Regions from separate parts of the Homo sapiens genome. Here region 2 is linked to region 1. Evidence: fine-mapped QTL for protein levels in blood plasma. A gene starts in region 1. The other region holds a variant in brackets. All regions are shown on one strand. Distances are from middle to middle.

Region 1 (5,368 bases):
ATACAACACATGTTTTTGTGAGCTCAAGGTTGGGGCAAAGGGGTTGGGGCAAAGTGGCTGGGGCAAAGTTACAGATTAACAGCATCTCAGGGCAAAGCAATTGTTCAGGGTACAGGTCAAGATGAAATTTCTTCTATCTTCCCTTTCTACATAGATACAGTAACAGTCTGATCTCTCTTTTCCCTACACTGTTCTAAGTACTACCCATTCCATTCAGCAATACAGTTAGGGACAGCCCTATGCAGTGCCGCCTATCAGGATCCTCTCTTATATGGGACACTAAGGGGTGGCACTGGCGTGGCACTGTACAGAGAGCTCAGGTGCCCCGGGGAACAGATAAGCTCTCCCAGGGGCCGGGGAGGCTTCCTGGATGGGCTGACCCTTGAGCAGGGAGGGAAGGGTCTGCGGTCACTGGCCACCACCAGCACCTTTGTTCTCCCAAGCCCTGCATCTGGACTCTCTGCAGCCACCACTGGTACGTCAAGGGCTGCAGCCCCACTGCTGGGGAGAACCCACTGCCTGGCATTGACTGGCTCCTGGATGACATTTCCTCCAGAAGGTTAAGTGCAATCTCTGCCTGCCGGGTTCAAGCAACTCTCCTGCCCCATTCTCCCGAGTAGCTGGGATTATAGGCACCCGACACCACACCTGGCTAATTTTTGTATTTTTAGTAGAGATGGGGTTTCATCATGTTGGCCAGGCTGGTCTTGAACTCCTGATATCAAGTAATCCGCCCGACTTGGCCTCCCAAAGTGCTGGGATTACAGGCATGAGCCACTGCACCTGGCCCCCAGCTAATTTTTAAATTTCTCATGAAATCAGAGGCAGCCTGTTGCCCAGGCTGGTCTTGAACTCCTGGCCTCAAGTGATCCTCCCGCCTTGGCTTCCCAAAGTGCTGGGATTACAGGCATGAGCCCCATGCCAGGCTTTGCTTCTTTCTGAAGACCAAGGCACCGCACCTGTACACCTGAATTCCAGGAACAAGAGTGGCTATTCACAATGCTTCCTCTGCAGTAAATACTATGTGTTGTATGTAAGCCTACCAACTTCATGCTGCATTTCAACAGATTTTTGCTTCAATTCTAACACTGACTGGAGCAAAGGTCTCAAAACCCATGCCAGGTTTGGGAACACCAGTCTCCACGTGGCCCACACTGACAGTACCAATACCACCAATTTTGTGGACGTCTGGAGGGGCAGAACCAAGAGCTTGTGAGTTGGTGGTAGGATGTGATCTAGAGCTTCCGAGCAGCGTGGTTCCACAGCATCGCCATCTTTACAGGTGACTTTCCATCCCTTGAGCCAAGGCATGTGAGCTCTTGGCTCCCGCCTGTTGTGACCACTCCAACCAGATATTGGCACAAATACTACTATGTCAGAGTTGTAGCCAATTTCTTAATGTAGGTGCTGATTTCCTTAATGATTTCTCCCATCTCTCCTTTTTTTTTTTTTTTTTTTTTTGAGACGGAGTCTCACTCTGTCCTCTGTCTCCCAGGCTGGAGTGCAGTGGCACGATCTCAGCTCACTGCAACCTCTGCCTCCTGGTTTCAGGCAATTCTCTGCCTCAGCCTCCCAAGTAGCTGGGATTACAGGCACCCGCCACCATGCCCAGCTAATTTTTGTATTTTTAGTAGAGACGGGGTTTCACCATCTTGGTCAGGCTGGTCTTGAACTCCTGACTTCCTAATCCACCCACCTCTGCCTCCCAAACTGCTGGGATTACAGGCGTGAGCCACCACGCCCGGCCCCCATCTCTCCTCTTTAGGGTGGCTCATTGGGATCCATTTTGTTAACACCAACAATTAGTTTCACACCCAGCGTGTAAGACAGAAGGGTGTGCTCACGCGTCTGCCCATTCTTGGAATTACCAGCTTCAAATTCATCAACACCAGCAGCAACAATCAGGACAGCACAATTAGCCTGAGGTCAGGTTTTTGATAAAGTCTCTGCATCCTGGGCCATTGAGGATGGTCACATAGTACTTGCTGGTCTCAATTGCCAGCAGGGAGGTATCAGTGGTGATACCACTCTCACGTTCAACTTTCAGCTTACCCAAGACCCAGGTATGCTTGAAGGAGCCCTTTCCCATCTCAGCAGCTTCCTCAAAATTGTCGATGGTTCTTTTGTGGATCCCACCACACTTGTAGATCAGATGGCCAGTAGTGCTGGACTTGCCCAAATCAGATGATGATGTTGAGCTGAGTCTTTTCCCTCCCCTGCTCCCTTTCTTTTGAGATGGAGTCTCACTCTGTTGCCCAGGCTGGAGTGCAGTGGTGTGATTGCAGCTCACTGCAGCCTCAACCTCCTGGGCTGAAGCCATCAGCCAGCTCAGCCCCTGGAGTAGCTGGAATTACAGGCGTGCGCCACCACGCCCAGCTAATTTTTGTATTTTTAGTAGAAACGGGGTTTCACCATGTTGGCCAGGCTGGTCTTGAACTCCTGACCTCAAGTGATCCACCTGCCTCCACTGCCCAAAATGCTGGGATTACAGGCGTGAACCACCGCGCCAAACCCCCATTTTGGCTTTGATTTAACGGTGGTTTTCACGACACCTGTGTTCTGGCAGCAAACCCATCGCAAAAAAGCTCCACTGCCCTACACAGATTCTATTATAAACATCTCCATTCTACAGATGAGAAACTGAGGCTGAGTAGTTAAGGGAAACTCCTACAGCTAGTAAGAGTCGTGACTCAGAGCCCATGACACCATCCTGCTTCTCCAACCTTCTTTGCTTCCTCTACTTTCCAGAAAACATGAATTAGGGAATCCTGTGGAGGGAGACAGGGAAATAATTTGACGTTGTCCTGTACATACTGGACACAATAAGAGTTGGGTGGATGAACGAAAGCAGGGATTTAGGAAGCGGGGAGAAGTCGTTTGGAAGTCTGTGACAAGGGTTTACGCTTGGATAGGGTGGGCTTGATCACCCGGCAGAAATGAGACGAGTGATCCCAGCCTTCCCAACCAATCTTTCCAGTGACCTGGGTTTACGCTTCACCACAGAGAAGGAACTTTTCAGACGCTCCCTTGGCCGCGCACCCGGGATCGGAACAGCGCTGTCACTTGCGACAAAATCCCTAGGCCAGAGGAAGAAGAGCGCAGGCCTGGCGAGGCGGCGGCGGGCGGAGGCTGGGCCGGAGGGGTGGGGACGGCGAGGAGGTGGAGGCCGGCGCTCCGCTCCGCTCCAGCTCGGTTTCATGTCCCGCCAGGCGAAGGATGACTTCCTGCGGCACTACACAGTGTCGGACCCCAGGACTCACCCCAAGGGCTACACCGAGTACAAAGTAACCGCGCAGGTGAGGTGGGGCCCAGCGCGTACTTTACCCTTTTAACTAGAGGGGCGCCGAGTTTTACCTTAAGGAAAGGCGGTGCAGCCACTGCTCCCTTTTTAGACGACAGAAATGGGTTTCCCCTTTAAGGGGAGGTTGCAGTACGAGGCTTAGTTTACATCTTTAACCACCAGGGGGCGGGGTCCTGGGTGGGCGCTGTCTTTTTTAAAAGGGCGTTGACGGCCGTTCCCGGACAGGCAAGGCGTGTATGCCCACGCCCGGAGTGTAGTGTCTGGGCATCAGGCTGTGAATTTCTCTAAATTAACATGAAAACTCTGGTTTAATCCAAATATTAGTACTCCATTCTCGTAGAGTAAGTTTTGTTTATTGGTTTGTTTGATGTTACATAAACTCCCTTTAACGAGTTTAACCATTTTTAATTTTTCAAAAAATAATACTGATCAGTGGTTGAAAAAAATTGATGCAGTTCAGAAGGACTTAAGGAGTAAGTCGCCATATCAAGGTCACAGCAGGAAGATAGATAGGCTAGAGTTGATATATGAAGCGATAACAACATCATAAGCACAATTTATAGAGAGACATGGAGGAAACCATGACAATAATTAAAAATGAAACAGTAAAACAGGACACCTGTAGAATGATAACAAGAACTGGTAACAAGGAAGGTCCCCAGGGAGAGGAACTGTGTCACTGGGGACAGGAGTTAGGGGAAGACTTTTTACTGTAAATTTTTTGTACTTTTAGAATTTTCAACCAGGCGACTATTAAGCTGGTGCATTAGTTAACTCTAAAAGCAAAGCAGGCACATAAGGACACTTCCAAAGTGATCTAAGTGCAGAATCTTAGCTATTTAAAATATGCTTTCCCCAAACCGTTTACGTCTTTTCCATGCCTAAAAATAATGCAAATAAGGCCGGGCTCAGTGGCTCATGCCTGTAAATCCCAGCACTTTGGGAGGCTGAGGCAGCAGATTGCTTGAGCTCAGGAGCTCAAGACGAGCCTGGGCAACATAGTGAGACCCCGGATCAATATTAAAATACAGACACACACACAACTTTAAAAAAAAAAAAAAAAAAAGCAAATAAATAGATTGTCCCTGGGAAGATAGACTGGAGGTGGGGCTGGGGTGGGGAGGATGTGGCAAGGAACTGTAACCTTTTATTATAAGTCTTCCCAGTGGTGGCCGGGCGCGGTGGCTCACGCCTGTAATCCCAGCACTTTGGGAGGCCGAGGCGGGCGGATCACGAGGTCAGGAGATCGAGACCATCCTGGCTACCATGGTGAAACCCCATCTCTACTAAAAATACAAAAACTTACGGGCGTGGCAGCGTGCACCTGTAGTCCCAGGTACTCGGGAGGCTGAGGTAGAAGAATGGAGTGAACCCGGGAGGTGGAGCTTGCAGTGAGCCGAGATTGTGCCACTGCACTCCAGCCTGGGAGACAGAGCGAGACTCCGTCTCAAAAATATAAATAAATAAATAAATAAATAAATAAATAAAAATAAGTCTTCCCAGTGGCTTTTTTGTGTCGTTGTTTTGTTTTGTTTTTGAGACAGAGTCTCACTGTCGCCCAGACTGGAGTGAAGTGACTCGATCTCAGCTCACTGCAAACTTCCGTCGCCCGGGTTCAGATTCTCCCACCTCAACCTCCCAGGTAGCTGGGACTACAGGCACGCGTCACCATGCCCAGCTAATATTCGTATTTTTTGGCAGAGATGGGGTTTCACCATGTTGGCCAGAATGGTCTCGATCTCTTGACCTCATGATCCACCCGCCTTGGCCTCCCAAAGTGCTGGGATTACAGGTGTGAGCCACCACACCCGGCCTCCCATTGGCTTTTTAAACCAAGCAACATGCATTACTTTGATATATTTTTATACATATTATATAATACAATGTATTATATATAATAAATATAAAATATAAAGCACATAATATATAAATATATGTATGTATATATTTTTTGAGACGGAGTCTTGCTCTGTCGCCCAGGCTGGAGTACAGTGGTGTGATCTCAGCTCACTGTAGCCTCCACCTCCTGGGTTCATGCAGTTCTCCTGCTTCAGCCTCCTGAGTAGC
Region 2 (5,314 bases), 11 kb after region 1:
TAAGGAGAGAGTAATTCTATTTTGAAAGCTGAGAAATAAACGCAGGTATTCATGACCCCACTTATCTCTTCCTCAGTGGACCCCCCACCATCCAGCCCTGCCCAGGAGGCCCTGGATCTCCTCTTTAACTGTGAGAGCACCGAGGAGGCATCTGGTTCCCCTGCCCGAGGCCCCCTCACCGAGGCTGAGCTTGCCCTCTTCGACCCCTTCTCCAAGGAAGGTAATGAGCTGGGACAGCCGGGAAGGAGCCAGGGCAGGACGTCCTTGGGACAGGGAGGAGGGCAGAGCCCCACTAGCCTGCTCAGTGCCTGCGCAGATCAGGGAGAGACGTCTCCTCAGCAGTGCTGCCCTGTGGGCCAATAGCAGCTTCAATGAGAATTAGAAGCCCTGTGCCAGGGCACGTGGTGTGGTGTGCTGGATGCACCTGTGCAACAAATAGCCACGAGGAAGGAAAGGAGGCACTTCCCATGTTGGGGCCATCTCACTGAGAAGGCTTTGGAAAGAGCCGGGTCACACTGCTCTGGGACATTTTAGTTCCTTCCCTGCAAGCTCTTGGTGGGATTTCCTGACTGGCCAGGGTCTGGCTGCAGATCCTGAAGGCAAGAGGCCTGCTGGTCAATGGGAGTGAGTTCTCAGCTCAAAGGGCAGCTGCAAAGGGAAATCCCTCTGGGGGCCTGGAGCCACTGGCATTTGGGGATGCTGGAGGTAGAAGGGCCCCCCCAATGGAGGTCAGGGTCCTGGGCACCTTCTTGCTGTGAGATCCTGGGACTCGACAGTCCCAAGCTCTGAGACACTGGAGTTTTTCATTCTAAAATTTGCCAACGCCTGGCACATTGGCTCACACCTGTAATCTCGACACTTTGGGAGGCTGAGGCAGGAAGATTGCTTGAGCCCAGGAATTCAAGACCAGCCTGGGCAATATAGCAAGAGTCCATGTCTGTTATTCTTTTTCTTTTTTTGAGACAGAGTCTCACTTTGTCGCCCAGTCTGGAGTACAGTGGCGCAATCTCTGCTCACTGCAACCTCCCAGGTCCAAGCGATTCTCCTGCCTCAGCCTCCTGAGTAGCTGCGACTACAGGCGCGCACCACGGTGCCTGCTAATTTTGTATTTTTAGTCGAGATGGGATTTTTCCATGTTGGTCAGGCTGGTCTCAAACTCCCGACCTCAGGTGGTGCGCCCGCCTCAGCCTCTGAAAGTGCTGGGATTACGGATGTGAGCCACCGCGCTTGGCCCGTTTTTTTTTTTGAGATCGAGTCTTGCTCTGGATTGCCGAGGCTGGAGTGCAGTGGCGCGATCTCAGCTCACTCCCACCTCCGCCTCCCGGATTCAAGCGATTCTCCTGCCTCAGCCTCCTGAGTGGCTGGGACTACAGGCGCGCGCCACCACGCCTGGCTAATTTTTGTATTTTGAGTAGAGACAGGGTCGCACCATTTTGGTCAGGCTGGTCTCAAACTCCTGACACTCAAGTGATCCACCTGCCTCCGCCTCCCAGAGTGCTGAGATTACGGGCGTGAGCCAAAATGCCCTGCCTCTTTCACTTTTCTTGTTCTGCCTCCTCCCGTTCCTGCTCCTGCCTCTCCAGGGTTGGGGAGTGGGAAGAAGGAATGGGAGGGAAAGGCAATGTTGGTGTCACAGGGCTGTTATGCCTGGCCTCTGGGTGGCAGGCATCCAAGTGCTCTGTCCTTGTGCCAGCTGAGTCCCTGCTGGGCAGCTAGCTGCCTGGGCAGGAGCTTTTCTATTTTTTTTCCTCTCCTTTTTAATTTTTTTATTTTTTTTTATTTATTTTTTGAGACAGAGTCTGGCTCTGTCACCAGGCTAGAGGGCAGTGGTGCGATCACGGCTCACTGCAGCCTCCAACTCCTAGGCTTAAGCGATCCTCCCACCTCAGCCTCCCAAATAGCTGGGACAGGACCACAGGCATGCACCATCATGCCCAGCTAAGTTTTTGATTTTTTGTAGAGATGAGATCTCACTATGTTGCCCAGGCTGGTCTCAAGCTCCTGGACTCAAGTAGTCCTCCCACCTCAGCCTCCCAAAGTGCTGGATCATAGGCATGAGTGACTGTGTCCAGCCAGGATCTTTTCAAGACCCTTCACAGACAGCTCCAATGAGACATTCACTCAGCCCATGGGAAAAGTCCCCAAAGCCTGGAACTGCAGTGTGCTCAGACACTGCCTTATTTCCCTACCCTGCCATGGTGGGCACCTCCAACAAGCCTCTCACCACCAGAATTCTCGAGGCAAGGAGTGGGCACCTGTGTCTCCCTTCTTCACAGCAAACTCCTTAACTCGAGTGTGCAGGTGTCCCAGGTACTCTTCTGCTCTCTGCTCCCTGAGCAATACATGGAGGGCTGTAGGCCCAGCCAGGAGGTGCCTTCTCCCTCCTGCAGGAGGCCCGGACTTCTCAGGGCTCTCATGGAACTCACAGGGATGGGGTTAGAGAGGCACCCACTTTTTCCCTCTCCAGGATGATAGGGTATCATGATGCTTCCTGCCCCCGCACCTTCCCCTCAGAGGCCTTTTCACCAAAGGTGCACCAGATTTCCAGTCGCCTCGTGTGTAAGCTGCAGGTAGGATGTCCGACCCCCTTTTAGCCAGTCCAGGGGGATATAATGAGCCTTTACCTGGGAAATGTGAGGACACCTGTCACTCACTGTCTTTACATTTGGGGGCCTCAGCTGAAACTGCAAGGCTTCAGAAAACCCCTGAGATTCTCTAAGTCTCCTATTCTAAGATTATTCCAAGTCTTGGAGCATTTCTACCCTCAGCCTGGTGGTGGTGGCCTAGCATCCTTCAGGGAAACTTTCTGGAGGGGATTTTTGGATTTCTAGGTCAACTGGAGTCAAGAGGGAAATAGGACCAGTGACCCAGAGCTTACAAACTAGAGTGTGTACCTAAAGACATAATTAGGAAGGTAAGGCTGTTTTTACAGAAGCACATGAACCCTATCGATCAAATAGCTCATGGCTAGTTTTTGATCCACAGACGACTTCTGGATTGCTCTGGCATTGGTCCCCTCTACTGGGGACAGGCTGATACCCTGATGGACAAAAGAAGTCTTGGGGTTGGGCAGAGGGCCTGGGAAAGGAAGGGCCAGTCTGGTCCGAGTCCTCCCTTTCTAACTGCAGAAGGCGCAGCCCCCAGCCCCACCCATGTGGCTGAGCTGGCAACGATGGAGGTGGAGTCTGCAAGGCTGGACCAGGAACCCTGGGAGCCAGGAGGGCAGGAGGAGGAAGAGGATGGGGAAGGAGGGCCCACCCCTGCCTACCTAAGCCAGGCCACAGAGCTCATCACCCAGGCCCTGCGGGATGAGAAGGCAGGCGCTTACGCTGCTGCACTCCAGGGCTATCGAGACGGCGTGCACGTCTTGCTTCAGGGAGTCCCCAGTGAGTAGGGACTGAGGGTGGAGGGTCAGGCCTGGGTCCCAGGTGGGGCAGTGATGAAGGGAGCAAAAAAACAAGCAAATCACGGATCAGGAGCCCTTTTACTCCTCACTGACCAGCTGTGTAACCTGGGCAGATTTTTGTTTCTGTTTTTTTGTTGTTGTTGTTTTTAACCTCTTGTGGCCTCAGTTTTCTTCTTCCTCTTTTTTTTTTTTTTTTTTTGAGACAGAGTCTTGCTCTTGTTGCAGGCTGGAGTGCACAATCTCGGCTCACTGCAACCTCCGCCCCCCAGGTTCAAGTGATTCTACTGCCTCAGCCTCCCGACTAGCTGGGATTACAGGCGCCCACCACCATGCCTGGCTAATTTTTGAATTTTTATTTTTTATTTATTTTTATTTATTTATTTTTATTTTTTGAGACAGAGTCTCGCTCTGTCGCCCAGGCTGGAGTGCAGTGGCACAATCTTGGCTCACTGCAACCTCCACCTCCCAGGTTCAAGCCATTCTCCTGCCTCAGCCTCCTGAGTAGCTGGGATTACAGGCACGTGCCACCACGCCCAGCGAATTTTTGTAGTTTTAGTAGAGATGGGCTTTCACCATGTTGGTCAGGCTGGTCTCGAACCCCTGACCTCGTGATCCACCCACCTCGGCCTCCCAAAGTGCTGGGATTACAGGCGTGAGCCACCGCGCCCAGCATGGCCTCAGTTTTCTTATTTGTAGACTGAGGAGAATGGATGCTGGGCCCCAGAGAGGAGGGAAAAGCACATGGTGATGCTCTGCGAATTGTAAAGGACCCGACCAGGGGTTCTGACCAGGCCAGTGGTGCCCAGGTGCCTCA[G/A]CTGAGCATTCTCTCTCCACAGGTGACCCGTTGCCTGCCCGCCAGGAAGGTGTGAAGAAGAAGGCAGCTGAGTACCTGAAGCGGGCAGAGGAGATCCTGCGCCTGCACCTGTCTCAACTCCCACCCTAACAGGGAGTGGGCCATTCCCTGGGACTCTCGCTCCTGCACTGCCAGCCCCTTCTCCTCTCCCCAGGGCCTGGCCCTACCTCCTGGTCTTGTAATTACAGGAGCCATTTCTGTAGGTAACTGGACCAAGAATGAGAAAAATAATGAATTCTTAGCTCCCTGATTACACCTGCCACCTTGGAATCAAGGACTCACACTTCTGACCCTGCCTGTCTTTTTGGGGTTTTTTTGAGTTGGAGTCTCGCTGTGTCGCCCAGACTGGAGTGCAGTGGTGGGATCGCGGCTCACTGCAACCTCCACCTCCCAGGTTCAAGCAGTTCTCCTGTCTCAGCCTCCCCAGTAGCTGAGATTGCAGGCACATGCCACCACGCCCAGCTAATATTTTGTATTTTCAGTAGGGACGGGGTTACACCATGTTGGCCAGGCTGGTCTCGAACTCCTGACCTCAAGTGATCCACCCGCCTCAGTCTCCCAAAGTGCTGAGATTACAGGCATGAGTCACTACGCCCGGCCCATGTCTGTCTGTCTTGATGTGTGAGCAGCAGCTGTGGTCATTAAACCATTAGTTTACCCCTCTAGAACTGGGGTCTGCAAACTCCCACCTGCAGCCAAATCTGGCCCACCTCCTTTTTAATGTAAGGGCTGTGAGAGTGGTTTTTACTTTTTTTAATGATTAAAAAAATCAAAATAATATTCTGTGACAATGACAGGTGAAATTTATATGTGACAAGTGAAAATTATATGAAATTTAAGAGTCCATAAATAAAATTTGTTGGAACACAACCAGGCTAATTCATTTAGTATTGTGATAGCTGCTTTCGCGCTACACTGGCAGTTGAAACAGTTGCAGAGTTGAGTCTTTGCCGCCTGCAAATCCCAAAACATTTACAACCTGGCCCTTTGCAGAAAACATTTGCTGGCCCCTGAGCTAGAAAATAGGGAGCATAGTCTCAGGGAAATAGAGGACA

Alleles and levels. Positions count from the first base shown, and alleles are read on the strand shown. Strength reflects both the effect of a copy and how common the allele is.
As copies of G replace A in region 2, the plasma level of the protein whose gene starts at base 3,099 in region 1 goes up (strong association).

What was found. A credible set is the group of variants that fine-mapping cannot tell apart. PIP is the posterior inclusion probability: the model's chance that the variant is causal. The UK Biobank Pharma Proteomics Project read protein levels with antibody pairs (Olink). The fine-mapping took linkage between variants from a reference panel, not from the people measured, so its PIPs are less certain.
Region 2: its variant is the best candidate, but not a certain one, in a credible set for the plasma level of the SNX15 protein (UK Biobank, PIP 0.73).

What each region holds. Positions count from the first base shown.
Region 1 is chr11:65,024,341-65,029,708 of GRCh38, forward strand. SNX15 (sorting nexin 15) reads left to right here and starts at 3,099. Exons shown (of 8, transcript NM_013306.5): 1 at 3,099-3,296. The coding sequence starts at 3,198. ARL2-SNX15 (ARL2-SNX15 readthrough (NMD candidate)) reads left to right here. Exons shown (of 11, transcript NR_037650.2): 4 at 2,978-3,296. It also overlaps the pseudogene EEF1A1P18. RefSeq lists an enhancer at 2,917-3,211 and a silencer at 3,061-3,230.
Region 2 is chr11:65,035,444-65,040,757 of GRCh38, forward strand. It overlaps SNX15 (sorting nexin 15), which reads left to right. Exons shown (of 8, transcript NM_013306.5): 6 at 77-220; 7 at 3,129-3,386; 8 at 4,243-5,129. The coding sequence ends at 4,349. ARL2-SNX15 (ARL2-SNX15 readthrough (NMD candidate)) reads left to right here. Exons shown (of 11, transcript NR_037650.2): 9 at 77-220; 10 at 3,129-3,386; 11 at 4,243-5,129. Among named protein-coding and RNA genes, the nearest start is that of SAC3D1, 3.1 kb to the right of the region's middle. RefSeq lists enhancers at 3,367-3,416, 3,487-3,606. The variant G/A (reference allele first, on the strand shown) is at 4,221.